4 separate regions of the Homo sapiens genome follow, and all the other regions are linked to region 4. Evidence: fine-mapped expression QTL. A gene starts in region 4. Each other region holds a variant in brackets. All regions are shown on one strand. Distances are between the middles of the regions. Region 1 holds the start of RAB1B (RAB1B, member RAS oncogene family). Region 2 overlaps PACS1 (phosphofurin acidic cluster sorting protein 1). Region 3 overlaps PACS1 (phosphofurin acidic cluster sorting protein 1). Region 4 holds the start of CTSW (cathepsin W).

Region 1 (8,093 bases), 390 kb before region 4:
GCCCCGGGTGCGAGGGCTCGGGGTTTTGAGCCGGGGTCCTGGGGCCCCTGGGGGGAGGGGCAGAACCCGGATGTGGGGGGGGGTCAGCGGAAGAGGGACCCGGATGTGGGGGCGCCGCACAGTCCTGACCCGGGCCAGACAACCCCGGTAAGCGTACAGCCCTGTATTCGGGATCGAGGCTGCGCTGGACGGCGCGGGCGGGGCTCACTCACTATTCGGGGTTCATGGCGGCGGCGGCGGCCCGCTCGGTCGCTCCCAGTCGACTCTGCTCCGCCTCCCGTTCCAAGATGGTGGCCGCTCCGCCCCAGAGGCCCCGCCCGCGACGCGCAGGCGCAAACGTCTTCTTCTCAGGCCTCGCCGCGCTGATTCCCGGAACTTGTAGTCTAAGACGTTCTCCAACTCAGCCCCGCTGCGCAGGCGTAGTCGGGGAGCCCGCGCCTCCGCGCCCACTCCCATCACTGCTGGCGCATTGCCTTCTGGGGCTTGTAGTTTGCACTCCGGACGCACTCAGGCTTGAGGACAGTGCTGGAAAGCCTGACCGCGACTCGGTGTTTAGAAAGCTCAATTTAGGGCTGGGCTTGGCACGTTTCACATCTGTCTGACGGAGGTAGTCATCCTTGCCCTCCCAATACCCACGTTGTGAACATTAAATGAGAATGTGGGTTCTAGTAAGACTAATAAAAGTACATTTGTCCAGGGTTCTTCGTGTACTGGGCAGTCCTAACTCGCAGCCGCGCGTCATCACCCGCATTTCATAGATGAAAAAACTGAGTCTCGGGAAACTCACTCAAGGTCAAAAACTTTGTGAGGAGCAGAGCTCATAAGAGCCCGCGGTCTCCAGAACCCCACAAGTGAGTGTTTTAGGGAAAGCCTGACTTGTGGGCCCCTCACGCAATTCCGGGGTGGGGCACAATATCTGGGCCCAGCTGCGCGGACAGCGGTTGAGCGAGACACACTGTCCCCCACTCACGCACGACCCTTCCCGGCTCCACCCCAGTCTAGAGACGCTGGGGGCCCCCGACCTCCGTCTCAAAACAAGCCCAGCTCAGATTTAAACCGTCTTTATTTCTACAGCAACATCTGAAAATATGAGAGCAGCCGCCTCACCCGCAACAGGGGGAGCCCCTCCTGCCACCAGGGGACCGTCGCCGCCCCTCGCGAGAAGCTGCAGGCGTGGGGGGAGGCGAGGCAGGATGGCTCGGTGGGCGGTGCCCGGGGCGGGGTCGGCCGTGCCTGGGCGGGGCCGGGTGGGAGGGGCAGTGCATAAGGCCGGGATGCGGGGCAGGGCCCGGCGGTGGGAGGACGGACTAAGGGGAGGTCCCCGTCCTGGGCCACGGGGCGATGGCGCGGGTAGGACGCATCCCTCAGAGGCCAGGAGGAGCGCGAGAAGGTCCCAGGACCCCCTTGGGAGGCGCCGCTCCCGAGAATGTAGAGCCTGGGAGATACCACCGCACGGAATGGGGGTGATTAAGGCCTGGGCGGTACCACTAGAAGAGGGACGAGGGGAGGCCCGGGTAGTACCGTGGACTGAAGGGAGGCGCGCGGCCAATAACTTATTTCTCTATATACAGAAGCAACGGCCGGGTTGAGTCGGGAGGGAGGGCGAGGGTGCCGAAGGGCCGGCGAGTGCTTAGTGTTCTTGGCTCTGGGGTCTGGGGAGGCCAGGCCACTGAGTCTATGGTGGAGACTCCAGCCGGCACCTCCTGCTGGCCCGAACCTAGGGAAGAGGGCCCTGCTGGAAGGAATAAATAAGGGATGGAGCTGGAGTGGGCAGGCCCAGCCTCCAGGGCTCAGGCTGAGATGACAAGGGAGAAGGTTACCCTGAGATTGAACAGAAAAGACAGGGGCTGTGGGAGAGACAGGCGGGACAAGCAGCAGGCCCATGCGCAGGGCTGGGGTGAGGGGGGTGTGCCAGGTGGGCGCTCTGGTGACTGGCTGCCCCTTCAGCATTAGCCCACCAGGGAGCTTCGTCGGGAGAGGTCCATGGAGCTGGAGCTGAGAGTGCGGCTGTCAGAGAGACCTGTGCCTCCAGGCTGTGGGCAGAGGGGGCAGGTGGCTCAGCCCTGTGCTGCTGCCAGTCTGTGCCTCCCTGGCCTGAAGGGGTCTGACCTGGCAGAGGCAGCCGGAATCCCTGAGCTGGGCAGAGGCAATGGCAGTTCTGACCCAAGGCCACACCCTGGTGCCCTGACACTCCCGTCCATCTCCACAGTGACGGTGTTAGCACTGGCCGTTTACACGTCCACCCCCAGGAGAGGCTGGGTTCCCCTCGTGTCTCCCCGTTGTCCAGCCCAAAGTAGGCCTGAGACAGAGCCAGGAACTGTTGCTGGATGAAGAGGCATGCTGGAGGGAAGCTTGGCAGCACGCATGCAGCCCCGGCCGCAGCTGCCCAGTGCCCAGACACCCGCCTGCCCCTACCTGGGTCGGCTCTTCCACGCTCTTGTTGAGGAAGTTGAGGGAACTGGCCCGCTTCATCCTGAGGGAAAAGGACAGCCTGGGATTTGCCCAAGGAGGAACTCACGGGAGATGGGGGCAGGGAGAAGGGTGGGGCTGGGGAGGGAACAGACTGGTGGGTGGTGGAGCCTGAGAGGGATGGGGAGGTTGCCTGGGGTCAGTGGGGCACACTCTGGGTCAGGAGCTCATCCGGGGTTGCTGGGTGGTTCTTGAGGCTCACCTTGGTGGGGGGCTCACCTGGGGTTAGGGGGCTCCTGGGGGGTGCCCCCCTGCAGCTTCTTTACCAGCATCTCACTGCTGCGCCTCAGGGCATCCCGGAGTTTCCCAAAGGAACCGCTGCGCCTCAAGGAGCCACTGCCATCCTGCAGGTGGACAGGCTTGCCTCTAGGCCCCGCTGGCCACCTAGGCTCCCAGCCCGACCCGGCCCAGGCCCCGGACTCACCCCATTCCACTCAGCTGTAGGTCCCACGTCCTCGAGGTCAGACTCAGACCGAGGCCCGGCACCCCCAGCCATGTCTCGGCTGCTGCGGCGGTCTCCCCGCCTGCCACTGCCATCTTTCAGCAGTTCTACCACCTTGGTCTGGCTTGCGGGGTCCAAACCCTGAGGGAGGGGCAGGGGCATCAGGCAGTGAATGGACCACACCCAGGGCCACACAGGTGTCTGCCCACCCCCTCCTGCATGGAGCCCCACCTGCTTGCGGTTACGGCTGGCACAGTCCTCTAGTGTGTGCGCGGCTTCCAGCTTGCCCTGGCGCCGGTATAGGGCCCCCAAGCTGCGCAGGGTGGTGTTGACTGTGGGGCTGTGGATGGGACAGTCTCAAACTCCATGTTCCCCCAGACCCAGGGCCCATCCTGGCACCCAGCCCACAGTGGGCCCTGAGGAAGCATGGACCTCCGGGGTAGCCAGAATCCATTCCTTCCCATGTCAAGCCCTGTGCTGGGCCCACCCAGCCTCTTCTGTCCTGGGGAAATCACCCCAGGGCTGGGGACCTGGCCCCAGGGCCCTCATGGGATGTTGTCACCAGGACCAAAAGCTGGGAGACCCAGAGCCAGAGAATTAGGCTGAGAATTGGGAGACAGAGCCTTCTTGGGACAGGTGACCTGTGAGTTGGGCCTTGCCAGATGAGCAGCAGAGGAGGGGTGTGTTGGGGGTGAGAGTATGGAATGTGGAGCCCGCCCTGCCGTGCCCTGCTCCCCAGCCCAGCCCCGCCCCACTCACCTGTCTACTTTACAGGCCTTGTACCAGCTGCCGTATTCCCCATAGGGGGCGCTGTCCCGGCGCTTATCCTGGAGGAAAGAATGGTCACAAGAAGTGAGAGCAGGCCCCCCTCTGCACATCCCAGCCTCCCCTGACAACCGCCCAGCCTGCCCCACAGAGCTACCTTGCTTTCCTCCCGCTCCTCTGCGTGCATCCAGATGGGCTTGTTGTCCCCTGGGGAGAGAAAGGGGACTGTCACCAGCCTACCATATAGGTCTCACCTGGTTGGGCTGGACACAGGACTGGGGTCAGGGGAGGGGAGACCACGGTTGGGCTTCGTTGAATGCATGAACAAGAGTAAGACCCAAAACACTGCTGACCCTCTTCTGGACAGAGATGAGCAGAACAGACCCTTGCACCTCAGGCCACAGCCCAAGACATGTGCTAGGCCTGAATGATGGGCCAGGCTCCGAGGGACTCAGGAGCAGATGACTGACCATCCGGGGCCAGAGGTGGTTTCCCAGAGTGGGAGACACTGGGGCAGGCCCTCAAGGTGAGCAAGAATCGCCAGTGGAGAAGGGGGATGCAAAGGCGTGTGAGGCCCTAGCAGGCCAAGGGGGCTGCGTGAGTTGGGTGTGTGCTCATGTGTGCAAACGTGAGCACAGGTGGCTGGGCACCATCTGAGGGTGAGGCTGGTGACCAGCCAGGCCAAAGCCTGAGGGCCTGCCCTGCTGAGGGATTTGTCCTGGGTGCTGATGGCAGAGTGGGCCTGGGATGGATGGGCTAGAGGCACCTGGTGACCACGCACTCACCATTGACAGAGCCAAACTCTTTCTCATGAGCGCGGGTGAGGATCTCCTTGTACAAGGTCTCCGCATCCTGGTACTTGCCCTGCTTCAGGTAGCAGGAAGCCTGGAAG[C/T]GGGAGACCCAGAGAGTGAGCGGGATGCATGCAGCCAAGCCTTTTTCTCTCCTTCTTCCCCAACCTCATCCCTGCCTCCCTCCTTCCCATCCTCCAGCTCCTCTCAGCCCCAAGGTACCAGGTTGTTCTTGGTCTTGGCCACATTGGGGTCATCGGGCCCGAGGCGTGTAGCATAGATCTCCAGTGCCCGCCGATAGTAATATTCCACCTCCTCAGCTTTGCCCTGGTTCTGGCACAGCAGGGCCAGGTTGCTGAGCTGCTTGGCCACATCTGGGTGAAACTTGCCCAGGACCTGGGATGGGAGAGGGAGCCAGGGGTTGGGCTCAGGGCTGCCCGGGCCCCTGCCTCCCAGACCCCCAGCCTGCCCAGCCCTGCCTGTTCCCACCTTCTCCCGGATCTCCAGTGCCCGCTTGCACAATGGCTCAGCCTCCTTGTACTTGCCCCTCTTGCCATACAGGACTGCCAGGTTGTTTAGTGTCGCAGCCACCTGGAGGTGGGAGAACGGAAGCTTCTTGACTCAGGCCCTGCAGGACTCTGGGACCTGCAGGGGATGGGGCACAGCCCCCACCTCCCACCCAACCCTCACTCACGGCTGGGTGGTCCTTGCCCAGTGTTTTCTCCCGGATGGCCAGAGCATCATTGAGCAGGTGGGCAGCCTCCTTGTACTTGTTCTGATCCCTGGGAGCAGGTAGGAGCATGGTCAGGGCTGTCCTCCAGCTCAAGGCCCTCCCCAATGGTCTGCAATCCCTGTGGTCACTCCTGTACTCACTGAGTGTGTATGACAGAGTGAGACCCAGAGTGTGGGGAGACCTGCTCAGCTCCTGCTCTCCAAGCTCCAAGGGCTGTAGGCAGTTTTCTCACAATTGGCTGGGGTGCGCAGTGCTGGGGTCCCACCGACTGCCTGGTGCCTAGCATTCCTGGGCGCCACATGGCTCTCCTGCTGCCCCTTTAGCGTGTCCTGCTCTCCAGGTCCCAGTGCCTTTGCTCATGCTGGCTTTTTGCCATGGGAACCTTTTCTAGCCCTCTTGTGTTTGGGCAAACTCACTTTCTGGCAAAGCCCCTCCTCCAGCCTTGGTGCCTGGAGAAGCTGTGTGGACTCCCCAGGACCCCTGGAGTCCTCATGTGCAGTCCCTCCCCAGTTCTGGCCAAGCCTCTCTCTTACACTAGACAGTTTTACTTGCATCTGTAGCCCAGCTCCACGCAGGTGGGCCACGAGTCCTGGCCCACAGCAGGCACCAAGGGTTAGTGATCCAGGGCTGGAGCCTTCCAGAAGAATTTGGGCACCCCCAGAGAGTCCTCACCGATAGACCAGTGCCAGGATGTTCAGCATGGTGGCAACGTCAGGGTGGTCGTGGCCTGACGTCTTCTCCAGGTCTTCGAGTGCCTGCTTGCAGAGTGGCACAGCTACCTCGTAGCGGCCCTGTGAGGCGTATTGGATCACCAGGTTGTGCAGGGTGCGGAGCCGGGCCGGGATCTCGTAGCCCCCATGCTGACCAGACACATCCCCTCCTCCTGGGCTAGGGGCTGCAGGGCCAAGGGCAGGAGGTCAGATGTACCATCTGCCCACTGGACTGGGATGGCACATGCCAGCTGTGCCTTTGAGCCACTTGACACATGGCCCTGGGCAAGTCACTAACCACTCTTTCTCAGTTTCCCCATTTATAGAATGGGTCTAGTTACCCCATAGAAAGAGGGGGTAGAGGCCCAGCTCCAGTACTTCAGGCTCTGTGTCCTGGGGCAAGCTGCCTAACCTCTGAGCCTGTGTCCCTGTGTACAGAGTGGAGGCCCCGATGCATAACCAGTACCATCAGCAAAGCAGGCACTGGCCCCATTGTGGCTGTCTGCATGTGCCTCCTTCAGAGGTGATTCGGAGAGGAAGAGAACTCTCCCAAGGGTCAGGGAAGCTAGTGGCAGAGCAGCACTGGAAGCCAGGCTGGTGACTCCACAGCTAATTGTGATGTCTGCTCACCACAGAGCTGGGGGGATGTGAGAAGCAGCAGCACGTACAACTGTTCTTGAAGCTCTAACACACTAGGATGTCATGATCAGAAGTGAGGCAGGAAGGAACATGGCAGCCACTCGGTCCCAAGGACCAAGAGTTCACACAACCTTTCCTTCCCCCACTCCAGAACTGCCCATCCGCACCTGGGCTCTGCTCATCCTCATTGGGGAACAGGTCATCCAGTGTGTCTTTGGGGACGTCCCCCTTCTCCTCCTGGGAAGGAAGACAGGATGAGCATCAGGGAAGGAGGCACAGGGCAGCCGGGGTGTCCATGGGCTGGGGTGGAGCCGAATCTGCTCCATGCTGCCCCTCCCTGCTCCCAGGCCTCCTTGCTGGGCAACAGTGACCATGGTAGGAGCTCACGTTAGGGGAGGCGTCTTCATCCAACTTGCGGATCTGGCTCATGAACAGCAAGTGCTGCTTCTCCTCCTCGAGCTGGGCCACGGCCTGCTCACTGCGCTGCAGCTTCTGCTGTGTCCCCGCCAGCTCCTCACGCAGCCACTGGTTCTCCTGCACCAGACGCCGCACCTGCGCCCGCAGCTTCTGCTTCTCTGATTCTACAGCCCCCAGGTGGCTCGACAATGCCAAGATCACCTGTGCAACCAGCCCAGGTAAGGGTCGGAGGCCTGTCGACCCCCTCGCCTATGACTGTAGCCTGGGCCTAGTTGGGCTCTGGCACCCAGTGAAGGGCCAGGCCTGGCCCTACAGTGAGGAGCTGCAGGTCTTTTCTCTGCTTGTCAAGGGAGAATCTCCTCAAGGCCCCCGACACACCATAATGCAAAGCCCAAACCCAGGAGGCTTGGGAGTCCCCAGTTCCTTCCTTCTAGGATCAGGAGAACCCCAAAAGGGCTAGTTGGGGTGCTGTGCTTTCCCTGAGCTACTAGCCCCTTCCTTCGTCTCTCCCTGGGTTGTACTCAAGCCTCTGCTGCCACAGCCAGTAGGTTACTGCTCCCTGCCTCAGGGCTAGCGCTTGCCCACAGAACTCTGCTAGATGGCTGAAGGACCACCCAAAGACTCCATCCCCACTTCTGCTGAGGGGCCACAGCATCCCCTGCCTTTCTGCAGCTCCCAGGTAGGGAAGGGGCATGTGTCCCAAATGCTCAGTTGGCATGAGGAGCCACAGGGGCAGGAAAAGTATCCAAAGGCCTTGGCCTCAACCCCCACCCCTCTCCCCAGCCTCTGCAACTCCTTTCCTTAGTTTCCAGTCTCTTCCTGCCTTCCTGCCTAGGGTCCAACCTCCCTTCTTGCTCTCTCTTTTTTTTTTTTTTTTTTAATTTAAGACAATGTCTCACTCTGTCACCTGGGCCGAAGGGCTATGGCACCGTCACAGCTCACTGCAGCCTCTACCTTCCAGGCTCAAGTGGTCCTTCCCCCTCAGCCTCCTGAGTAACTGGGACTACGGGTGCACACCACCACAGCTGGCTAATTTAAAAAATTTTTTGGCCAGGCACGGTGGCTCACGCCTGTAATCCTAGCACTTCAGGAGGCTGAGGCGGACAGATCACGAGGTCAGGATTTCAAGA
Region 2 (8,102 bases), 250 kb before region 4:
CTCACGCCTGTAATCCCAGCACTTTGGGAGGCCAAGTGGGGTGGATCACTTGAGGTCAGGAGTTCGAGACCAGCCTGGCCAACATGGTGAAACCCCGTCTCTACTAAAAATACAAAAATTAGCCAGGCATGGTGGTAGGCACCTGTAATCCCAGCTACTCGGGAGGCTGAGACAGAAGAATTGCTTGAACCCAGGAGGTGGAGGTTGCACTGAGTTGAGATTGCACCACTGCACTCTAGCCTGGGTGACAGAGCAAGGCTCTGTCTCAAAAAAAAAAAAAAAGCGCAGGAGAGGAGGCCAGCAGGGATGAGGGCAGGCCTCAGGCAGCCATGGTACATGCTGAACCTGTGCACAGTGTGTCTGGGTGACAGTGCTGGCATGTTTTCCACACAGAAAATCGCTCTGTAATACTAGTAATTTATCAACTAAAGTTAAAATGAAGAACTTTCATTTATCTTGAGTTCTAAAGCTTAAGCCAAAGCAATTTTAGTTGGAGAAAGCTGAGGAGCTAACAAAAACCCATAAAGATTCTGAAGGGCGTGCCTTACCTATCTCAGAGCTCGTGAAGATGGCAACCATGAGTCCTTAGCGTGGCTTCTAATTTCTCTTCAAAATCAAGGGCTTCCTTTCTTTTTGATATGGACACACCACTAAGTACTCTTTAGCCATTACCAGGACAAGCTTTTAGTTCAAAATATAATGAAAAGAATGAGTGGTGAGAAGAAATAAGATTTTTTTTTTTGAGATGGAGTCTATCTCTATTGCCCAGGCTGGAGTGCAGCGATGTGACCTCAGCTCACTGCAACCTCCACATCCCGGGTTCAAGCCATCCTCCTGCCTCAGACTCCCAAGTAGCTGGAGTAGCACCACACCTGGCTAATTTTTGTATTTTTAGTAGAGACAGGGTTTCACCATGATGGCCAGGCTGGTCTCGAACTCCTGACCTCAGGTGATCCACCTACCTCAGCCTCCCAAAATGCTGGGATTACAGGCGTGAGCCACTGCACTTGGCTGAAATAAGATATTTTTGAGGTAAGAGAGCAATAAATAAGGAAGAAACAAGAAACCCAAAGAGGAGATAAGAAGGATTATCTCCGGCATAATTATCTAAGATTCAAGACAGAATAAAAGTGAGTAATTGCTGGGGAGTGAAGGGAATCCCCAGTGATAGTGAGAAAAAGATGACACCGTGACCAAGTTTCTACACTGGCCATCAGGGGGCACCATCGGTCAGAACAACGCCCTGGCGCCAGGGTACAGGGAGCCCTACCCAACTGGACTTCCATATGTACAGGCTGCTCCCACTTTGGGAACACATACTAAACTATAAGCCATTGGAAATGCTTTTACAGCCAGATTAAGAGAGAAAAAAAAATACATCAAAAACAAACACAAACCCATCTGTCCCTATATTTGTACATCCAAATCAGAAATGGCAACGATACGTAGCGTGTCATTTGGATCCTAGAAGTAGGGAGGGCCAGAGAAAGCTGAAGAAATTTCATCACCTAGCCAGGTGTAGTGGCAGGCACCTGTAGGTCCCAGCTACTAGGGAGGCTGAGGCACAAGAATCACTTGAACCTGGGAGGCAGAGGTTGCAGTGAGCCGAGCGAGATTGCTCCACTGCACTCCAGCTTGGGGGACAGAGCGAGACTCCGTCTCAAAAAAAAAAAAAAAAAAAAAAAAAGAAAAAGAAAAAGAAAAAGAAATTTAATCACCGAGTCCCTGTTACTGAAACTCAGCCGGCCTCACAACAGTCGAGGGCAGCAGCACAGTGGGGCAGTGGACTCCGCACAAGGGGATGGTGGGGAATTACGCTAATGGGGATTTCAGGGAGCACAGAGAGGAACCTGGAACAATGACAATGTGATCAATGCCTCAGGAATAGGCATTTCATGCTTATGTTAGAGCTAGGTTCTCATATCTTTAAGAAATTAGAATAAACATGGGGTATATATCACAGGCATCTGAAGAAGGAAGTCAACAACTTGCCCAGTATCACACTTAGCCAGGACAAGTATCTGTCTGGCTTGCTAATCCAGTTTCTTTCCATTAGATATTTTTATAAATAATTAAATTTGTGATGGGAAAAAAAAGAAGAAAGCATTGCTTTAAGGTACATTTAACAAAAAAGTCTGGCTGGGCGCAGTGGCTCACACCTGTAATCCCAGCACTTTGGGGGGTTGAGATAGGAGGATCGCTTGAGGCCAGAAGTTTCAGACCAGTCTGACCGACAGATGTGGAACTCCATCTCTACAAAAAAATTGAAAAGTTAGCTGGGTGTAGTGGTGTGTGCCTATAGTTCCTGCTACCCTGGAGGACAGCTTGAACACAGGAATCGGAGGCTGCAGTGAGCTATGATAGCGCCACCCCAGCCTGGGCATGGTCTTCAGACTCAGACCTGCTGGCAGGCAAAAATCTTTCAATGACATCTCTGGATCTACATCAGGTTATAAACCACGGACATTATCAGCTGTTCCAGTGACCTGCATCGAGGTTGGCAAGATCCTTTGCCCCAAGCATCTGTGCACAGTGATGCCTCCAGCAGCCACTAGTGAAGCCAAGGAGCAGAACATAGGAAAAAAACTCAGCTCCTCCATCTGGCAGCATATGGCTAGCCAGACCTAGTGCTCTATCTTGCAAAACTAGCTATAAAGCTGAGGTGAGAGTCTTTAATGAATAAATGCAACAAATAAACTCTGCAAAGCAGAGTAATAATGGCTATACGAAGACAGGTGACACGGGTTAGAGTAGCAGCAGGAGGCCATAAAGTGCCCAGGACAGATTCCAGAAATTTTCTGGAGTCAGAATGTATAGAACTTGCTGATAGATTGCACACACAGAGCATGAAAAAGAAGCAAAGATGACTCCGGGGTTTTTGGCTTGAGCAACAGGGTGGAAGGCAGCACCATTTACAGTCGGCCCTCTGTACCCACAGGTTCCATATCCATGGATCAAAAATATTTAGGAAAAAAGCCAGGTGCCATGGCTCACTTCTGTAATCCCAGCACTTTGGGAGGCCAAGGCAGGGAGATCACTTGAGGTCACGAGTTCGAGACCAGCCTGGCCAACATGGTGAAACTCC[G/A]TCTCTACTAAAAATACAAAATTAGCTGGGCGTGGTGGCATGTGCCTGTAATCCCAGCTAATCAGCAGACTAAGGCATGAGAATTGCTTGAACCTGGGAGGCGGAGGTTGCAGTGAGCAGAGATCCCACCACTGCACTCTAGCCTGGGCAAGAGAGTAAAACTCCATCTCAAGAAGTATGTACCTATATGTATATTTAGGGGGAAAAAAAGGCTGGTTGCATCTATACTGAACATGTACAGACTTTTTTTTTCTTGTTTATTCCCTAAATAATACAGTATAACAACAATTTACATAGCATTTACATTGTATTAACTATTATAAGTATTCAAGAGATTAAAGTACGAGGGAGGATGTGTGTAGGTTATATGCAAATACAGTGTCACTATATAAGGAACTTAAGCATCTGTGGATTTTGGTATCTGTATTAATCCGTTTTCACACTGCTATAAAGATACTACATGAGACTGGGTAATTTATAAAGGAAAGGGTTTTAATTGACTCGCAGTTCCACAAGGTAGGGGAGGCCTCAGGAAACTCACAATCATCGTGAAGGGGAAGCAAGCATGGACTGTCTCACATGGTGGCAGGAGACAGAGGTGTGTGAGAGCGCAGGAAAAAAGCACCATTTATAAAACCATCAGATCTTGTGAGAATTCATTCACTGTCACAAGAACAGCATGGAAGAAACCGCCCCCATAATCCAGTCACTTGCCATCAGGTTCCTCCCTTAACACTCAGGGATTACAATTCAAGATGAGATTTGAGTGGGGACACACAGCTAACCTATATCAGTATCCATTGTGGAGGGCTGCTCGTGGAACCAATCCCCCAGAGATACCAAGGGACAAGTGTACTTAGATGAATAAAGATTGGGAGAGGAACAGATTTTTTTTTTTTAATGAGGAAGGGATAAAATAAGTTTTAGCAATGCTAAGTTTGAGATATCTGTTAGATATTTAGGTGGGGCTATCAGGTAGACAGTGAGTATACAAATTTAGAGATCAGAGAAAAAATCAAACTGGAGATGTAAATTTGAGACACATATAAACCTAATTAGAAGAAAATACAGGATAATGCCTTTTTTTTTTACATAGAGATGGAGTCTTGCTATGTTGCCCAGGCTGGTCTCGAACTCCTGGCTTCAAGCAATCCTTCCACCTTGGCCTCCCAAAGTGCTGGGATTACAGTCATGAGCCACCACGCCTGGCCCAGAAAAGATTTCTTAAGTAAGACATCAAAAAGCACAAATCTTTATAAATGGAAAAACCAAAGGAAATGTCTAAATTAAAACAAAAGATTTCTGCTGAATAAAGGACACCACAAACAAAGTTAGCAGGTAGATGAGGGACAGAAGAAGACATCTGAAACATTTATAACTGCCTTAGGATTAATAGCTACAATATATAAGAAACTCTACTGGAAAAATGGGAAAATGATATGACCAGGTCATTCATAAAAGGAAAATCCAAAGACTACCCAGTATATACAGAAATCTAGCCATGCTCATTAGTAATCAGAGAAATGTGAGTTTAAAAAGATATTAATAACATGTGAAACCTGCCAAACTCACAAAAGTTTTAAAGTCAAATACTAAGGACTGCACTTAGTAGTGGAAATACAAATTAAGCAATCATGCATTACTTAGTGAAATTAAATATGATTATACTCTGTGACCCAACAATGATACTTGTTGGTATTTAGCCAGAGAAACTCTTGTACAAGTTCGTAAGAAGACATATATGAGGATCTTCTTATTAATTTATTTAGTTTTATCTTTTTTTTTGAGACAGTCTCACTCTGTTGCCCAGGCTGGAGTGCAGTGGTGGCACAATCAAGGCTCACTGCAGCCTGAACGTCCTGGGCTCAAGCGATCCTCCCACCCCAGTCTCTCAAGTAGCTGGGACCACAGGCACATGCCACTGTGCTCAACTAAGTTTTTAATTTCTGGCAGAGATGAGGTTTTTGTCACATTGCCCGGGTTGGTCTCGAACTCCTGGGCTCAAGCGATCCTTCTGCCTCAGCCTCCCCAAAGTTCTGAGACTATAAGTGTGAGCCACTATACCCACAGAGCATTGTTTGTGGTACAGGGAGAACAAATAAGGTGTCTGTCACTTAGGGGAACAGGCAAATAAAACGCAGTAGACAGAGCAATAAAAATACAATGCAGTGGCTAAAAGCACCATATAAACACAACACCAACAGAACTGAAAAACATAGTTTTAAATGAAGAAAGGATCAGAATGAGAATTATCATGTAATACTATTTATATAAATTTACAGAAAACACCATGTAAGAATACATATATATCCAAGGATACATATTAAACACATCAGAGAAGATGCTAATGGGAGTGGGATGGGAATGGGAGAAGAGATACAAAGTGACAACAGAAAACAATAAAAACATCAGGGACCCTTGCAATGTCAATATAATGGTATTGTAAAAATAACACATTTTTAATTGGAAGAAAAAGTAACAAATTCAAAGGGGCAGAAGGAAGTTTCCTTCTGCTTCAACTCTCCTTTCCAAACTGTTTGACATTTGGTTCATTTGACTTACCAGGTAAGGAAGGGGGCTAGAGGGGAGGGAGGGAGGAGGCCAACATGTATAAATGCGGCCTACTATATTGCATCTTGCACCCACTTTGACCATGGCATTTGTCATGCTGCTGAAATTATACATATACACAGCTATCTTCTCACCCTGAAAGTTACATCCTTAAGGGCAGGACTGTATCATATTCATCCTCATGCACCCAAAACCCAACTCGGGGGATGGTGCAAAGAATACATTCAATAAATGCTGACTGGCTGACTGGTTGGTTGGTTGGTAGACTGGATGGAAAATAAATCAAAATTATAATCCAGCTGAATTGTTTTCAGCTCAGGTGTACCCTTAGTGCTTGACTATTATAATGTAGCCAATTGAATGTTTAAAGAATTATCATAAATGGGTAGATGTCCTCCTAACATCATTTATTCTAGCATAAAAATGCATGTCCTTTTGGATGGCAGACACATGGACAAACATCACAAAATTCAAGCTGACTCTACAGCTGCAAGGAGAAATTAGAGACACTACTGCAAAATCAGAAATATGAACGATAAAGTTAACTTGAGGTGAAGGGAAAAATAAAGATGCAGCACAAGCCAGGTAATCCCTGCTGCCTGGCAGTGCTGGGTGCCTCACACTTCTGACACTACTGATTCCACACTATGTGTATAATACACAAAAACCCTTCTTACTGGCCAAGCACAGTGGCTCACACCATTATCCCAACACTTTGGGAGGCTGAGGGTGGATCACTTGAGCCCAGGAGTTCGAGACCAGCCTGGGCAATATAGTTAGGCCCCGTCTCTATTTTAATAATAATAATAATAATAATAATAATAATAATATTTTTTAAACCCTTTTTTTTTTTTGATATGGAGTCTTGCTCTGTCACCCAGCCTGGAGTGCAGTGGTGCGATCTCAGCTCACTGCCACCTCCACCTTCCAGGTACAAGTGATTCTCCTGCCTCAACTTCCTAAGTAGCTGGGATTACAAGTGCGCGCCACCACACCTGGCTAATTGTTGTATTTTCAGTAGAGACAGGGTTTCACCATCTTGGTCAGGCTGGTTTTGAACTCCTGACTTCAGGTGATCTGTCCACCTCGGCCTCCCCAAGTGCTGGGATTACAGGCATGAGCCACCACACCTGGCCCCTTCTTACTAACTTTAATCAATTTTTAAATTGACATTACAGTATAATTTACATACAATAAAATACACACATTTAAATGAACAGTTTGATTAGTTTAAATGTACGTACCCATGAAATCACCATCATAGCCAAGACGCAGATCATTCCCATCACCCCAAAAGATCCCTTGTGCCCCTCTGCAGCCACGCCACCCCTTTACCCAGGCTCCAGGCAACCACTACTCCGTCTTTTGTCAAGATATCTCACTCACATTTTTTTTTTTTTTTGAGATGGAGTCCGGCTCTGTTGCCCAGGATGGAGTACAGTGGCACGATCTCGGCTCACTGCAACCTCCGCCTCACGGGTTCAAGTGATTCTCCTGCCTCAGCCTCTTAAGTAGCTGAGATTACAGGCGCATGTCACTACGCCTGGCTAATTTTTGTAATTTTAGTACAGACAGGGTTTCCCCATGTTGGCCAGGCTGGTCTCGAACTCCTAACCTCAGGTGATCCACCCTCCTCAGCCTCCCAAAGTGCTGGGATTACAGGCATGAGCCACTGTGCCCAGCCCTCACTCACTTGTTAAATTTTAAAATTTAATTCTAAAATTTTCAAACATATACACAGTAGAACAGTAGAATGAGCCTAGTTTGCCCAACACCCAGCTTCAACGATGTTTAATGCATAACCAGTCCTGTGTCAGTGATTCTCCCACCTACTCCCTTGCCTGGGCTATTCTGAAGCAAATCACAGACAGCATTTCTTTTCATATGTAAATATTTCAATATGTATGTCTCTTTAAAGGATATTCTTTTAAAATGTATCCACAATTTTCACACTTAACTAACAAATTTTTTAAATTTAATTATTTGTTGTCAATATTCAATATAAGATAAATTTCCTCTTGTCTTTTTTGGTTTGTTTTATAAAATAAACTTCTTAATACCATTAATACCATCAAATAATCAGTCAGTGTCCACATTTCCCAGATTGCCTCACATTTTCTTCATTTTGTCTGAATCAATCATATATGACTATTGGTTCATTCATCTCTTCAATCTCTTTTTATCTATAGAGGCTTTTTTCTCACCTTTTCCCCTTATGATTTATTTGTTGAAAAAACTGTTCTGTTTATCCTATAATGCAGTTTGGAATTTGCTGATTCTATCCCCAAAAAGCCATTTACAATGTTTCTCCATCCCTCGTATTTCCTATAAATACACAGTAAGATCTAGGCGTTTTATCAAACTCGGGGTCTACTTTAGCAGCAAGGCTGCTTCACAGGTGGTGGTGTGCACACATACCAGGACATACATACAATGTCCCATATGC
Region 3 (8,102 bases), 220 kb before region 4:
GAGGCGGAGGTTGCAGTGAGCCGAGGTTGCAGCAAGCCAAGGTTGTGGTGAACCGAGATTGCGCCATTGCACTCCAGCCTGGGCAACAAGAGCAAAATTCCATCTCAAAAAACAAAAACAGATATAGGCCAGGCATGGTGGCTCATGCCTATAATCCCAGCATTTTGGGAGGCCAAGGTGGGTAGACCACTTGAGCTCAGGAGTTCAAGACCAGCCTGAATAACATGGCAAAATCCCAACTCTACAAAAAATACAAAAATTAGCTGGGTATGGTGGCACATGTCTGTGGTCCCAGCTACTCGGGAGGCTGAGGTGGGAGGATGACTTGAGCCCAGGAGGCGGAGGTTGCAGTGAGCTGATATCGAGCGACTGTACTCCAGCCTAGGAGACAGAGCCAGACCCTGCCCTCAAAACCCCCCCAAAAAAGAAAATGATATAGAAAGTGATAGGCTGGGCACGGTGGCTTATGCCTGTACTCCCAGCACTTTGGGAGGCCGAGGAGGGTGGATCACGAGGTCAGGAGATTGAGAACATCCTGGCTAACACAGTGAAACCCCATCTCTACTAAAAATACAAAAAAATTAGCCGAGTGTGGTGGTGGGCGCCTGTAGTCCCAGCTACTCGGGAGGCTGAGGCAGGAGAATGGAGTGAACCTGGGAGGCGGAGCTTGTAGTGACCAGAGATTGTGCCAATGCACTGCAGCCTGGGCGACAGAGCGACACTCTGTCTCAAAAATAAATAAATAAATAAATCAATAACTATTAGCCCGGTGTGGTGTCATGCACCTGTAGTACCAGCTACTTTGGAGGCTGAGGCAGGAGAACTGCTTGAGCCCTGGAGGCGGAGGTTGCAGTGAGCTGAGATTGTGCCACTGCATTCCAGCTTGGGCTACAGAGTGAGACTCCATTGAAAAGGGAAGGGAAAAGGGAAAAAAGAAAAGGAAAAGAAAAGAAAAACAATGGCATTACAGTAAGAAAAACAGAGATACCTGGAAGACACCAACATGAGCAGGTGATGAGGGCCAACAACAGCAGTAACAGGGCTGGTTAACAGAATGTGCCCCTTGATGTGATGTGCTGAGACTATTACAGCATCATTTTTGTGATACTTTTGCCAAGAAATCATGACCTGAATTTGGTCATAAGGAAATACTATAAGATCCGCCTTGCCAATCACCCTACAGGATATCTAACGGTTGTGGACAAGAACAACCGGGATGACAAAGGATGATCCCAGACTGGAGGGTGTGAAGAGACGCTGACAGCTAGGTGCAATGCACACTCCTCCCTGGGATTCTGGGACAAAACAGAAATGAGATATAGTTGGGGCAGCAAACTGTGAATGGGGTCAATAGATTGGACAATAGGGTTTTATCACTGCAAATTGTCTGACTTAAAGGAGTATGTAGTGGTTATTTGGGAGTGCCCTTAACTGGCGGAAAATAAACACTGAAATATTTAAGGGTGCTAGGATAGCATGTGCATAACATGGTCTCAAATGACCCAGAAAAAACTGATTTAGAGAGAGAAATAGTACAATAGAGTAAATGCAGTAAAACGTGAACAGTTTGGAAATCTGCATGAGGTGAGAGGAATGTGCAAGTTCCTCCCCATCACAGACTAGAAGAAAACTCTATCAGATACACACACAAACATACAACACACATTCATGCAGAGACACACACACACACATCTGATAAAGAACTTAACCCGTCATATATAAAGAACTTCTACAAATAAATTATAAAAAGACAAACATATTGATTATTCTTACTCTTATTATTTTTATTATTTTTGAGACGGAATCTCACTCTGTAGCCCAAGCTGGAGTGTGGTGGCATGATCTGGGCTCACTGAAACTTCCATCTCCCGAGCTCAAGTGATTCTTGCGCCTCAGCCTCCTGAGTAGCTGGGACTACAGGCGCCCACCACCATGCCCAGCTAATTTTTTGTATCTTAGTAGAGACGAGGTTTCACCATGTTGCCAGGGTGGTCTCAAACTCCTGAGCTCAGGCGATCCACCCACCTTGGCCCCCAAAGTGCCGGGATTACAGGTGTAAACCACCATGCCCAACCTACCTATTTTTAAAATAAGAAAAAGACTTGAACAGATACTTCGCAAAAGAAGGTATCCAAATGTCCAATTAGCAGGTATTCAATGTCATTAGGGAAATGCAAATTAAAGCCTCAGAGTTTCCATTTCATGCCCACTAACATGGCTAAAATCTAAAAGACAGGCACTAAATGTCGGTGGAGATACAGGGCAACAGGAACTATATTGCTCGTATTAGTTATCCACTGTAGCATAATAATACTAGCAAAGCTTAGCAGCAGCTTAAACTAATGCATGTTTATTATCTCACAGATTCTATAGGTCAAAAGCCCAGGCACAGTTTAGCTGGGTCCTCTATAAGGTGCCACCAAGGTACTGGCTGAGACTATGGTCTCATCTGAGAACTGAGTGGGATAGGATCTGTTTCCAAACACACATGGTTGTTGGCAACACTCAATTCCTTGTGGGCTGCTGGACTGAGGGCCACAGTCTCTTGCTGGCTGTGGGTTTGAAGCTGCCCTGAGCTCCCTGCCACAGGGCCGTCTCCATAGGCAGCTCACAACACAGCACCAAAGCCAGCAAGGGAGAGAGTCTCCTCACAAGATGAGCATTACGATCTGACTGGGAATAATCAGGTATGCATGACCATACACATCCTGTCACCTCTGCCATATTCTATCAGTGAGGAGTCAATCACAGGTCCCACCTGCACCCAAGGGCACAGGACTACTAGGCCATAAATACCAGGGGGTATTTATCATGGGGGCCACTTCAGAATCTGTCTGCCTCAGTTAGTGGGAATGCAAACTGATACAATCACTTTGAAAAAATTGGCAGTTTCTTACAAAGTTTAAACATACACCTACTCTAAGACACACCATTCCACTCCAACATATGTACCCCCAAAGAAATGAAAATGGGGCTGGGCGTGGTGGCTCATGCCTGTAATCCCAGCACTTTGGGAGTGTGAGGCAATAGGATTCCACAAAGCCAGGAGTTCAAAACTGGCATGGGCAACAAAGCGAGACTGTCTCTACATTAAAAAAAAAAAAAAGAGAGAGAGAGGGAGAAATGAAAATGTATGTCTGTAAAAACACCTGTGTAAGAATGTTCACAGCGGCTGGGCGCGGTGCTCAGGCCTGTAATCCCAGCACTTTGGGAGGCCGAGGTGGGCAGATCATCTGAGGTCAGGAGTTTGAGACCAGCCTGACCAACATGGAGAAACCCCGTCTCCACAAAATAAAAAAAATTAGCCAGGCATGGTGGCGCATGCCTGTAATCCCAGCTACAAGGGAGGTTGAGGCAGGAGAATCGCTTGAACCCGGGAGGCAGAGGTTGCAGTGAGCCAAGATCAC[G/A]CCATTGCACTCCAGCCTGGGCAACAAGAGTGAAACTCCCGTCTCAAAAAAAAAAAAAAAAATTCATAGCAACTTTATTCATAAAAGCTAAAAGCTGTAAAGAACCTATATGTCCATCAACAGGAGAATGGATATGCAAATTATATCATGTTTCAATGAAATACTTGGAAATAAAAAAGAATGAACTACTAGCTGGGCGCAGTGGCTCACACCTCTAATTCCAGCACTTCGGGAGGCTGAGGCAGGTGGATCACTTGAGCTTGGGAAGTTAAGGCTGCAGTGAGCCATCACTGTACTCCAGCCTTGGTGACACAGCGAAACACCCTACATCAAAAAAAAAAAAAAAAAAAAAAAAGAAAGAAAAAGATAAAAAGAAAACCAGGCATGGTGGCTCACTTGAGGGCAGGAGTTCAAGACCAGCCTGGGCAATTGGCAAAACCCCGTCTCTACTAAAATAAAAAAATTAGCTGAGCATGGTAGTGCATGCCTGTAATCCCAGTTGCTTAGAAGGCTGAGGCAGAAGAATTCCTTCAACCTGGGAGGTGGAGGTTGCAGTGAACTCAGATCACGCCATTGCATTTCAGCCTGGGCAACAGAGTGAGACTCTATCTCAAAAATTTAAAAAAAAAAAAGAAGAAATTACAAACTTATTGGGAAAATGTGGGTGCTGATGAAAAAGCCAAACAGTTTTCGACAGCTGGAATTCACCAGATAATACCTAAAGATTGTTTTCTAAATAAGTCTGTAAAACTACGTGACTCTCTAAAATATATGTATAACTTTGATTAAAAATAAAAGCAATAATGAGGCCGGGCGTGGTGGCTCACGCCTGTAATCCCAGCACTTTGGGAGGCCAAGGCGGGTGGATCACTTGAGGTCAGGAGTTCGAGACCATCCTGGCCAACATGGTGAAACTCCGTCTCTACTAAAAATACAAAAATTAGCCAGGCATGGTAGCATGTGCCTGTAACCCCTGCTGTTCAGGAGGCTGAGGCAGGAGAATCACTTGAATCCAGGAGATTGAGTTCGTAGTGAGTGGAGATCACATCACTGCACTCCAGACTGGGCAACAGAGTAAGTCTCCGTCTCAAAACAACAACAATTCTCTTTGAAGCAATTGTGAATGGGAGTTCACTCATGATTTGGCTCTCTGTTTGTCTGTTATTGGTGTGTAAGAATGCTTGTGATTTTTGTACATTGATTTTGTATCCTGAGACTTTGCTGAAGTTGCTTATCAGCTTAAGGAGATTTTGGGCTGAGACAATGGGGTTTTCTAGATATACAATCATGTCATCTGCAAACAGGGACAATTTGACTTCCTCTTTTCCTAACTGAATACCCTTTATTTCCTTCTCCTGCCTAATTGCCCTGGCCAGAACTTCCAACACTATGTTGAATAGGAGTGGTGAGAGAGGGCATCCCTGTCTTATGCCAGTTTTCAAAGGGAATGCTTCCAGTTTTTGCCCATTCAGTATGATATTGGCTGTGGGTTTGTCATAGATAGCTCTTATTATTTTGAGATACGTCCCATCAATACCTAATTTATTGAGAGTTTTTAGCATGAAGGGTTGTTGAATTTTGTCAAAGGCCTTTTCTGCATCTATTGAGATAATCATGTGGTTTTTGTCTTTGGTTCTGTTTATATGCTGGATTACATTTATTGATTTGTGTATATTGAACCAGCCTTGCATCCCAGGGATGAAGCCCACTTGATCATGGTGGATAAGCTTTTGGATGTGCTGCTGGATTCGGTTTGCCAGTATTTTATTGAGGATTTTTGCATCGATGTTCATCAAGGATATTGGTCTAAAATTCTCTTTTTTGGTTGTGTCTCTGCCCGGCTTTGGTATCAGGATGATGCTGGCCTCATAAAATGAGTTAGGGAGGATTCCCTCCTTTTCTGTTGATTGGAATAGTTTCAGAAGGAATGGTACCAGTTCCTCCTTGTACCTCTGGTAGAATTCAGCTGTGAATCCATCTGGTACTGGACTCTTTTTGGTTGGTAAGCTATTGATTATTGCCACAATTTCAGAGCCTGTTATTGGTCTATTCAGAGATTCAACTTCTTCCTGGTTTAGTCTTGGGAGGGTGTATGTGTCGAGGAATTTATCCATTTCTTCTAGATTTTCTAGTTTATTTGCGTAGAGGTGTTTGTAGTATTCTCTGATGGTAGTTTGTATTTCTGTGGGATCGGTGGTGATATCCCCTTTATCATTTTTTATTGCGTCTATTTGATTCTTCTCTCTTTTTTTCTTTATTAGTCTTGCTAGCGGTCTATCAATTTTGTTGATCCTTTCAAAAAACCAGCTCCTGGATTCATTAATTTTTGAAGGGTTTTTTGTGTCTCTATTTCCTTCAGTTCTGCTCTGATTTTAGTTATTTCTTGCCTTCTGCTAGCTTTTGAATGTGTTTGCTCTTGCTTTTCTAGTTCTTTTAATTGTGATGTTAGGGTGTCAATTTTGGATCTTCCCTGCTTTCTCTTGTGGGCATTTAGTGCTATAAATTTCCCTCTACACACTGCTTTGAATGCGTCCCAGAGATTCTGGTATGTTGTGTCTTTGTTCTCGTTGGTTTCAAAGAACATCTTTATTTCTGCCTTCATTTTGTTATGTACCCAGTAGTCATTCAGGAGCAGGTTGTTCAGTTTCCATGTAGTTGAGTGGTTTTGAGTGAGATTCTTAATCCTGAGTTCTAGTTTGATTGCAATGTGGTCTGAGAGACAGTTTGTTATAATGTCTGATCTTTTACATTTGCTGAGGAGAGCTTTACTTCCAACTATGTGGTCAATTTTGGAATAGGTGTGGTGTGGTGCTGAAAAAAATGTATATTCTGTTGATTTGGGGTGGAGAGTTCTGTAGATGTCTATTAGGTCCGCTTGGTGCAGAGGTGAGTTCAATTCCTGGGTATCCTTGTTAACTTTCTATCTTGTTGATCTGTCTAATGTTGACAGTGGGGTGTTAAAGTCTCCCATTATTATTGTGTGGGAGTCTAAGTCTCTTTGTAGGTCACTCAGGACTTGCTTTATGAATCTGGGTGCTCCTGTATTGGGTGCATATATATTTAGGATAGTTAGCTCTTCTTGTTGAATTGATCCCTTTACCATTATGTAATGGCCTTCTTTGTCTCTTTTGATCTTTGTTGGTTTAAAGTCTGTTTTATCAGAGACTAGGATTGCAACCCCTGCCTTTTTTTGTTTTCCATTTGCTTGGTAGATCTTCCTCCATCCTTTTATTTTGAGCCTATGTGTGTCTCTGCACGTGAGATGGGTTTCCTGAATACAGCACACTGATGGGTCTTGACTCTTTATACCTAGGAATCCAACTTACACGGGACGTGAAGGACCTCTTCAAGGAGAACTACAAACCACTGCTCAATGAAATAAAAGAGGATACAAACAAATAGAAGAACATTCCATGCTCATGGGTAGGAAGAATCAATATCGTGAAAATGGCCATACTGCCCAAGGTAATTTATAGATTCAATGCCATCCCCATCAAGCTACCAATGACTTTCTTCACAGAATTGGAAAAAACTACTTTAAAGTTCATATGGAACCAAAAAAGGGCCCGCATCACCAAGTCAATCCTAAGCCAAAAGAACAAAGCTGGAGGCATCACGCTACCTGACTTCAAACTATACTATAAGGCTACAGTAACCGAAACAGCATGGTACCAAACAGAGATATAGATCAATGGAACAGAACAGAGCCCTCAGAAATAACGCCGCATATCTACAACTATCTGATCTTTGACAAACCTGAGAAAAACAAGCAATGGGGAAAGGATTCTCTATTTAATAAATGGTGCTGGGAAAACTGGCTAGCCATATGTAGAAAGCTGAAACTGGATCCCTTCCTTACACCTTATACAAAAATTAATTCAAGATGGATTAAAGACTTAAACGTTAGACCTAAAACCATAAAAACCTTAGAAGAAAACCTAGGCATTACCATTCAGGACATAGGCATGGGCAAGGACTTCATGTCTAAAACACCAAAAGCAATGGCAACAAAAGCCAAAATTGACAAATGGGATCTAATTAAACTCAAGAGCTTCTGCACAGCAAAAGAAACTACCATCAGAGTGAACAGGCAACCTACAAAATGGGAGAGAATTTTCGCAACCTACTCATCTGACAAAGGGCTAATATCCAGAATCTACAGTGAACTCAAACAAATTTACAAGAAAAAAACCAACAACCCCATCAAAAAGTGGGCGAAGGACATGAACAGACACTTCTCAAAAGAAGACATTTATGCAGCCAAAAAAGACATGAAAAAATGCTCACCATCACTGGCCATCAGAGAAATGCAAATCAAAACCACAATGAGATACCATCTCACACCAGTTAGAATGGCAATCATTAAAAAGTCAAGAAACAACAGGTGCTGGAGAGGATGTGGAGAAATAGGAACACTTTTACACTGTTGGTGGGACTGTAAACTAGTTCAACCACTGTGGAAGTCAATGTGGCGATTCCTCAGGGATCTAGAACTAGAAATACCATTTGACCCAGCCATCCCATTACTGGGTATACACCCAAAGGACTATAAATCATGCTGCTATAACAACATATGCACACGTATGTTTATTGCAGCACTATTCACAATAGCAAAGAGTTGGAACCAACCCAAATGTCCAACAATGATAGACTGGATTAAGAAAATGTGGCACATATACACCATGGAATACTATG
Region 4 (8,102 bases):
ACACCTTTCCGGTATAGCTGCAGGGGGTGGGGGCCGAGGGGCTGAGTGTGGGGCCAAGTCTCCTGTATGCCCCTTCCCCATCAGCTCCCCCATCTCACCTGAAGGGGCTTCATGTTGATGGTCACGGTGATGGGGCCATAAGTGGCCAGGTACTGCGCAATTCCTGGGGACAGGAACATCATCAGACCCTTGGCATGTGGGTGTGTGGGTCTCTCGCTCCTTCGCTCCCCCCACCCCCTCTTGTCTTCTAGCCCAGTAGCCCAGCGTGTCTGCCTCTGCCCCGGTGTCTGTCCCTGCCATCCGCCCGTGTCCCTGCCCTGCCCGCACTGTGCTCGTTGTTCTGCAGCATGATGAAGTCCTGGATCCAGGCCACCTTCTGGTACTTCTTGGGGTGGCACCTGTGGGCTCTGACTTTGCCCTGGAACGGGTAGTCCTTTTCACTGGCCAGGCCGCCTGCAGATAAGCAAGACAAGGGAGGAGGTTCCGCTCCTGCCCACCCTGTCCCCCTGCAGATGTCCAGAGTGGCGGGGCAGTGCACTCACTGTTGTTGAGGACAGTTATGAACGCGTCCCAGACGAAGCCACCGTGGCAGCCATCCCCACAGCGGCCACAGTCCAGCAGTTCTGGTGCAAGAAGGGACAGTGTGGGTGACCAGGCCCCTAGGCCTCCCTCCCCTGTCACACGCGCACCCTCTCCCAACCCTACCCTGCACGGAGACATCCACAAAATCCCAGAAACTGATGCGCCACAGGGTCTCTATGTTGCCTGCCGCTGCCATGGCCCAGCAGCAGTTGCAGTTTTTCTGGAGGGCGAGAGGGTGGGGCGGGGCTAGGTGTTCGGGCCGTGCCCCTCTCCCTCCCACCACTTAGCTGAATTAGAGCCAGCTGGGTAGCGGCAGATACCTGGTCCTTGATGGGTGAGATGGCGCTGGCCACCTTCCGCCAGTCACAGCTGAAAGGTACTGACTCCTCTGGCTCTTCAGACCTTATTTCTCTGCCCATGCTGGGGACCCCTCCAGCTGCCCTCCGATAGCCATAGAGCTGGCCAAACTCCTCCTCTGGGGAACAGACAGGGCCACTGAGGTCTCCATTTTGACCCCTTCTCCCTGTTCTGCCTCTCCCACTCCAGCTGTTGGTCCCATAATTCCCTGAGGGGCAAAAAGGCAAGGATAGGCCGGGCGTGGTGGCTCACACCTATAATCCCAGCACTTTGGGAGGCCAAGGTGGGTGGATCACTTGAGGTCAGGAGTCCGAGACCCCATCTCCACAAAAAGTAGAAAAATTAGCTGGGCGTGGTTGTGCGGGCTTGTAGCCCCAGCTACTTAGAAGGCTGAGGGGTCGGGGGAATTGCTTGAGTCTAGGAGGTGGAGGCTGAGTGAGCTGTGATTGCACTATTGTACTGCAGCCTGGACAACAGAGCAAGACCCTGTCTCAAAAAGGCAAGGGTGCCAAGCCTAGAGAGGCTGGGCTCCCTGCTGGGTGCTTCCCTGCAGCTGCTGCGCTGGCCCCTAGGCTGGATTAGGACACAGGACTGCAGAGATTCTGCCCCTGCACTGGGTGATTTGATACCAGCACCCAAGCCCCTGGTCCTCAGGGAAATGAATTTCCTTCCCTGGGAAGTAAAAATTGAAGGTCCGCTGGGTCCAGCTGCCAGTGTCCCTGGGGAGATCGCTTCCCAACCACCACCTACGAGCCAGAAGGGTTAATGGTACCTGTGAGGTCACTGAATGGAGTCACCCCAAACTCAGCTGTGCCCAAGTCCTCCTCCTGCAGCCTCTGAGCCTGGGCCAGGTTGTGGGCAAAGATGTCCAGGCGGTGAGCATGCTCTGGACCAAAAGGGAGTTGTCCTAGGCTGACTCCCAAGCCCTTAGGGGCAGGAAGTAGCCGCTGGCTGGGCACCCTTCCACCCACACCCACCCAGTTGAGCACTGGCTCCTTTCCTGTAGCCCCCACAAGGCCCCACTGCAGATACCCAGGCCCAGGAAGTGGTTACCCAGCCCACCGAGGGTTGGGTTTTCCCCAGAGGCAGCCAGAGGACCATCTCTGGCCACCCTAGGTGGGAAGCCAGGCAAGGGGTCCGGTGGTGGTGACTCAAGGATGTGTGGCTGGAGACCAGCTTCCTGCCAGGCCACGTCCTTTACACCTCTGACCACAGGAGGAGAGCTGGAACATGGCAGGGAGAGGAGATGACAAGGCACAGGCAGTCTGGGCTAAAAGGCACACACAGATCAGCCCCCTAGAGAGATCAGCACAGCGAGAGGGCAGGGGCAGGGGTTAGATCATGGGCTAGAGAAGAAGTCCCCAATGTGGGGACAAAATGGGTGTCCTTGGGTGTTTGCTGAATGAGCAAATGACTAGGTGGTGGCCCCCTGTCCACTGCCTAGAATCGCAGGGAAGTGGCTGTGGAGCCAGGGGATCACGTAGGACTAGGGCAGGACCCCACCTCCTGCCACTGCCCTCCAGATCCATAGCAAAGAATGATCCTGGACCCACTCATGCCTTCGGGAAACCAGGGAACACACCCCCAGCCCTGGCCTGTCCTGCTGAGTGGCCTTGGCCATGCCTGTTCCCCACCCTGAGCTTCGATTTCTTCATCTATTACAAAGCGGGATGGCTGGGCTCCGTGGCTTACACCTGTAATCCCAGCCCTTTGGGAGGCCGAGGCAGGCGGATCACCTGATGTCAGGAGTTCAAGACCAGCCTGGCCAACATGGTCAAACCCCATCTCTACTAAAAATGTAAAGGTTAGCCAAGTGTGGTGGCGCATGCCTGTAATCCCAGCTACTCAGAGGCTGAAGCAGGAGAATCGCTTGAACCCGGGAGGTGGAGGTTGCAGTGAGCCAAGATGACACCATTGCACTCCAGCCTGGTCAACAAGAGTGAAACTCCGTCTCAAAAAAAAAAAAAGTGGGGGCTTGGACTGGAGATGTATGTGCCCTGTGATACCTTCTGGGCTCAGGTAACTCCGGTTGAACTGGATCTGGAACAACTTGAAGGCCTCTTTCAGCTCTAGCGGCTGGGGACCTAGGTCCTGGCAAGGAACCAAGGGTGGAGAGGGGCAGTGGGCAGAGGAATCATTGCTGGGGCCCCACCTTAGTTCCCAGCCGTGCAAGGACTGGGCTAGGGGTCAGCCAGTTAGCCTTTTCTGTCTTCCCATGTGCCCTTGGGCACGTCAGCCCCCTCTCCAGCCTCAGCAACTCCCTCTGAAAAATGAGAATGACAGGCCAGCTGTTTCTGAAGGGGTGACCCCAGGCGTGGGACTGGCATAGGTAAGGGTTTGGGAGCACTTACCTGGGCCCTAAGGGGGCCTCTGATGCCTTGGGCTAGGCCTGCCACCAACAGGGCCAGGAGGCAGGAGGGGTGGGCAGTCAGTGCCATGCCGGTGCAGTCTGGAGTGGCATGGAGGCAGGAAGCCGCGCAGATCGAGGAGGACGGTGTGAGGGTGGGGCTGGAGAAACCACGAAGGGGAAGACAGGCTTGGTGGGTGGAGGGTGGACCCCTAGAACCCACAAGTTGCTCAGGCCTTCAGGCTTTCAGTCCCTGCCTGTCTGCTCCCCATCCCACCCCTTTTTCTTTCTTTCTTTCTTTCTTTTTTTTTTCCACCCAGGTTGGAGTGCAGTGGCATGATCTCGGCTCACTGCAACCTCCACCTCCCGGGTTCAAGCAATTCTCCTGCCTCAGCCTCCCGACTAGCTGGGACTACAGGCATGCACCACCATGCCCAGCGAATTTTTTGTATTTTCAGTAGAGACAGCATTTCACCATGTTGGTCAGGCTGGTCTCCAACTCCTGACCTCAGGTGATCCACCTGCCTCAGCCTCCCAAAGTGCTGGGATAACAGGCATGAGCCACTGCGCCCAGCCAAGGGAACCACTCTTGCTCATCCTATGAAGCTCAGTCAGCTCAATGGCCGCCTCTTTCAAGAAGCCTTCCCTGCTTCCCCAACCTCTGGTAGAAGCTTTGCAGCCCCTTCAGCCCAGCTGCACCTGTGCCCATTGGGCATCTGCCTCCAACCACACCAGAAGTGTTCAGTTCGCTTGTGTCCTCGGTGTCCTCGGTTCCCAGGATAGGGCTAGGCATGAGTCAGGCTCGCTAGGTGTTTGTTGACTGAACAATTGATCATCATGAGTTTTAAACAGGAAAGCAGGCCGGGCATAATGGCTCATGCCTGTAATCTCATCACTTTGGGAGGCCAAGGTAGGAGAATCATTTGAGCTCAGGAGTTGGAGACAAACTTGGACAACTGAGCAAGGCTTCATCTCTACTTAAAAAAAAAAAAGTTAGCCAAGCATGGTGGTGCTCTCCTGTAGTCCCAGCTACTGGGGAGGCTGAGGCCAGTGGGATTGCTTGAGCCTGGAAGATTAAGGCTGCAGTGAGCTATGATCATGCCTCTGCACTCCAGCGTGGGTCCAAGATCCTGTGTCAAAAAAACAAAACCAGGCCAGGCACGGTGGCTCACGCTTGTAATCCCAGCACTTTGGGAGGCCGAGGCGGGTGGATCACCTGAGGTCAGGAGTTGGAGACCAGCCTGGCCAACATGGTGAAACCCTGTCTCTACTAAAAATACAAAAAAGCAGCTGGGCATGGTGGCGGGCGCCTATAATCCCAGTTACTCGGGAGGCTGAGGCACAAGAATCACTTGAACCTGAGAGGTGGAGGTTGCAGTGAGCCGAGATCGCACCATTACACTCCAGCCTGGGCAACAAAAGTGAAACTCCATCTCAAAAAACAAAACAAAACAGGAAAGCGCAGAGTCAGAGTCCGGGAGCAGCAACTGCAGCCAGTGCCTCCCGTTCCTCATCCCTCCCACGGTCTAGGGATGAGGATGAGGGGGCTGAAGAGCCAGAAGGATAACAGGGTGAGCATCACAGACGGAGGGAGGCCAAAGCCTGACTTGTGAGGTCAAGGGCTGGGCAGCAGCATTAACACCCGTTACTGCTGCCTTTGTTCTAAGTGGGTCCTTGGGCTGGGGACCTCCCCTATAGGAGTTCAGGCTGAGAACTGGTGACCAAGACCAGAGAAGGGTGTGAAGAGCTGGCTTTCTAGGGTTCCATGGGGTGGGAGACAGGACAGCTATAATCCTGGGATTTATTCACTTACATGCTCACTACTGCGTTTCTTTTTTTTGTTTGTTTTTTTGAGACGGAGTCTCGCTCTGTCGCCCAGGCTGGAGTGCAGTGGTGCGATCTCGGCTCACTGGAACCTCCACCTCCTGGGTTCACGCCATTCTCCTGCCTCGGCCTCCCGAGTAGCTGGGACTACAGGCACCCGCCACCACGCCCGGCTAATTTTTTGTATTTTTTAGTAGAGACAGGGTTTCACCATGTTAGCCAGGATGGTCTTGATCTCTTGACCTCGTGATCCGCTCGCCTCGGCCTCCCAAAGTGCTGGGATTACAGGCGTGAGCCACCACGCCCGGCCTACCATGTTTCTTTATTAGGATTCCTCCCAGAGTCGTGAGGCCACACTTTGTCACCCTGCCCAGAGAGTAAACCAAGGGGCTTCTCTATCTGAAAAGCATGCTGCTGCCTTTATTGAAATGCAGTGGACAGACCATCCCCAGAGTGGTGCCTGGCCCTGTGGTTCTAGAGCCCAGTTATGGGCCCCAGCCAGTCTTGTCCTGTGTGTGACTGATAGTTAAGGCTCCATGTCAGCCCTCAGAGGTGGAGGTCCCAGTGTGGGCCTCTTGTGATGGTAGGGGATGTGGGAGGCCACGGGGAAAAGGAACTGGAGGTGTGGGGCCCAGTGGCCTTCCCTTTGATCCTCTCCTCCCTTCCCTTGAACTAGAGCTCCTGAGGCCAGGAGGTTTGGGTCTGTTTTTGGTCAGTGCTGTGTCCCTGGCTAGCACCACAGCATCTGCTTCACAGTGGCCACTCAGTAAACATTGTTTGTTTTGTTTTGCTTTGTTTTTTTGAGACAGAGTCTCACTCTGTCGCCCAGCCTGGAGTGCAGTGTCACGATCTCGGCTCACCGCAACCTCTGCCTCCCGGGTTCCAGCAATTCTCCTGCCTCAGCCTCCCAAGTAACTAGGGCTACAGGTGTGCACCACCATGCTGGGGTAATCTTTTTGTATTTTTAGTAGAGACAGGGTTTCACCATGTTGGTCAGGCTGGTCTCAAACTCCTGACCTCAAGCAATCCACCTGCCTTGGCCTCCCAAAGTGCTGGGATTACAGGCGTGAGCCACTGCACCCGGCCGAGAAAACATTTGTTGAGTGAATCAATGAACTTCCTCCACCCACTCACTCATTTGTTCATTCAACTGCCTACTCTGCAGATCCCAGCTGGTACCCAGTAAGGGCTGGGCCATGGGCACAGGGGCCTCACTGCCTGAGAGGAGCTCCCTGCTTGGTAGGAGGGAGACACTGATCCAGTGGTGTCTGGGACCTTGAAAGGGACCCAGTGCAGAGCAGGCGAAGGCAGGGAAAGTCACTGGGGGTGCAGAGGACGAGGGAGGCATTCTGAGGAGGCAACTCCAAGTGGAAGGCTCACTCGGGCTGGATAGTGCAAAGATGGAGGTTCAGGTCTAGGTTGTGCACCAGCTGTGCACTAAGTCATCCCCCCTGGGCCTCATGTCTTCATCTCTAATTGGCAATGACAATTCTCAGGCTGAGGCTTGAGTGGAAGATACTTAGTGGAGCACCCACCACTGTGGCTGGCACAGAGTGGGTGTTTGCAGGGCGGGTCCTTAATGCTCTAATATGGGGCAAGGAGCCCAGCGAGTCTTGAAGTCCGTGGGACATGAGTGCAAGTCCCATCCTTCACCTGGGACAAGTCTCTCAGCCTCCCTATCTGTGAAATGGGGTGATAGCAGCACCCCTTTCCTGCCTTTTTTTATATTTCCTTTTTTTGAGACAGAGTCTTGCTCTGTTGCCCAGGCTGGAGTGCAGTGGCACGATCTTGGCTTACTGCAAACTCCACCTCTCCGGTTCAAGTGATTCTCCTGCCTCAGCCTCCTGAGTAGCTGGGACTACAGGCGTTCGCCCCCATAGCCCGCTAATTTTTGTGTTTTTAGTAGAGATGGGGTTTTGTCATGTTGGCCAAGTTGGTCTGGAATTCCTGACCTTAGGTGATCCACCCACCTTGGCCTCCTAAAGTGCTGGGATTACGGGCGTGAGCCACCGTGCCTGGCCTATTGTGGTATTATTACATACTATAAAACTCACATTTTTTTTTTTGAGACAGAGTCTCACTTTGTCGTCCAGGCTGGAGTGCAGTGGCGCGATCTCGGCTCACTGCAAGCTCCACCTCCCAGGTTCACGCCGTTCTCCAGCCTCAGCCTCCCGATTAGCTGGGACTACAGGCGCCTGCCACCACGCCAGGCTAATTTGTTTAGTAGAGATGGGGTTTCACTGTCTTAGCCAGGATGGTCTTGATCTCCTAACCTCATGATCCACCCGCCTCGGCCTCCCAAAGAAAATTCACTTTTTTGAAGTGTACAATTCAGTGGGTTTTTGTATGTTTGCATAGTTGTGTGACCATCACTACTATCTAGTGTTAGAATATTTTCATTATCCCAAAGAAAACCCAGACCCCATTAGCAGACACTCCCCATTCCCCACCTTCCTCTGGCAACCATTAATCTACTTTCTGTTTTTCTGGGTTTGCCTATTCTGGTTATTTCATATAAATGGAATACGTGGGCCAGGCACGGTGGCTCACGCCTGTAATCCAAGCACTTTGGGAGGCCAGGGTGGGTGGATCACCTGAGGTCGGGAGTTCGAGACCAGCCTGACCAATATGGTGAAACCCCATCTCGGCTAAAAATACAAAATTAGCCAGGTGTGGTGGCAGGCACCTGTAATCCCAGCCATTCCGGAGCCTGAGGTAGGAGAATTGCTTGAACCCAGGAGGCAGAGATTGTGGTGAGCTGAGATCATGCCATTGCACTCCAGCCTGGGCAACAAGAGCGAAACTCCATCTAAAAAAAATAAAAAATAAATGGAATATGTGGCTTTTTGTGTCTGGCTTCTTTCACTTCACATAGTAGTTTCAAGAATTCACCTATATTGGCCGGGCGCGGTGGCTCACGCCTGTAATCCCAGCACTTTGGGAGGCCAAGGTAGGCGGATCACAAGGTCAGGAGATTGAGACCATCCTGGCT

The links.
Region 1: its variant is fine-mapped to the expression of CTSW in whole blood (INTERVAL, PIP above 0.99).
Region 2: its variant is fine-mapped to the expression of CTSW in whole blood (INTERVAL, PIP 0.99).
Region 3: its variant is fine-mapped to the expression of CTSW in whole blood (INTERVAL, PIP above 0.99).

The regions. Positions count from the first base shown.
Region 1 is chr11:66,260,813-66,268,905 of GRCh38, reverse strand. It overlaps KLC2 (kinesin light chain 2), which reads right to left. Exons shown (of 16, transcript NM_001318734.2): 3 at 6,934-7,164; 4 at 6,714-6,783; 5 at 5,870-6,092; 6 at 5,159-5,246; 7 at 4,954-5,055; 8 at 4,687-4,860; 9 at 4,462-4,561; 10 at 3,834-3,883; 11 at 3,671-3,738; 12 at 3,143-3,251; 13 at 2,894-3,052; 14 at 2,689-2,813; 15 at 2,416-2,473; 16 at 1,046-2,033. The coding sequence ends at 1,950. RAB1B (RAB1B, member RAS oncogene family) reads right to left here and starts at 267. Exons shown (of 6, transcript NM_030981.3): 1 at 213-267. The coding sequence starts at 226. KLC2-AS1 (KLC2 antisense RNA 1) reads left to right here and starts at 3,220. Exons shown (of 6, transcript NR_186327.1): 1 at 3,220-3,554; 2 at 3,686-3,763; 3 at 4,044-4,202; 4 at 5,026-5,215; 5 at 6,894-7,181. KLC2-AS2 (KLC2 antisense RNA 2) reads left to right here and starts at 495. Exons shown (of 3, transcript NR_186342.1): 1 at 495-607; 2 at 698-851; 3 at 1,075-1,357. RefSeq lists enhancers at 1-48, 209-538, 659-708, 1,009-1,058, 1,815-2,697 and silencers at 1,169-1,488, 1,509-1,558. The variant C/T (reference allele first, on the strand shown) is at 4,569.
Region 2 is chr11:66,127,840-66,135,941 of GRCh38, reverse strand. All of the region lies in intron 1 of PACS1 (phosphofurin acidic cluster sorting protein 1), which reads right to left. Among named protein-coding and RNA genes, the nearest start is that of PACS1, 62 kb to the right of the region's middle. RefSeq lists a silencer at 37-86 and an enhancer at 7,941-8,102. The variant G/A (reference allele first, on the strand shown) is at 3,086.
Region 3 is chr11:66,091,870-66,099,971 of GRCh38, reverse strand. All of the region lies in intron 1 of PACS1 (phosphofurin acidic cluster sorting protein 1), which reads right to left. Among named protein-coding and RNA genes, the nearest start is that of PACS1, 26 kb to the right of the region's middle. RefSeq lists an enhancer at 1-458. The variant G/A (reference allele first, on the strand shown) is at 3,408.
Region 4 is chr11:65,875,130-65,883,231 of GRCh38, reverse strand. It overlaps CTSW (cathepsin W), which reads right to left and starts at 3,395. Exons shown (of 10, transcript NM_001335.4): 1 at 3,291-3,395; 2 at 2,946-3,030; 3 at 1,712-1,825; 4 at 903-1,057; 5 at 706-802; 6 at 543-623; 7 at 328-453; 8 at 99-163; 9 at 1-17. The coding sequence starts at 3,377.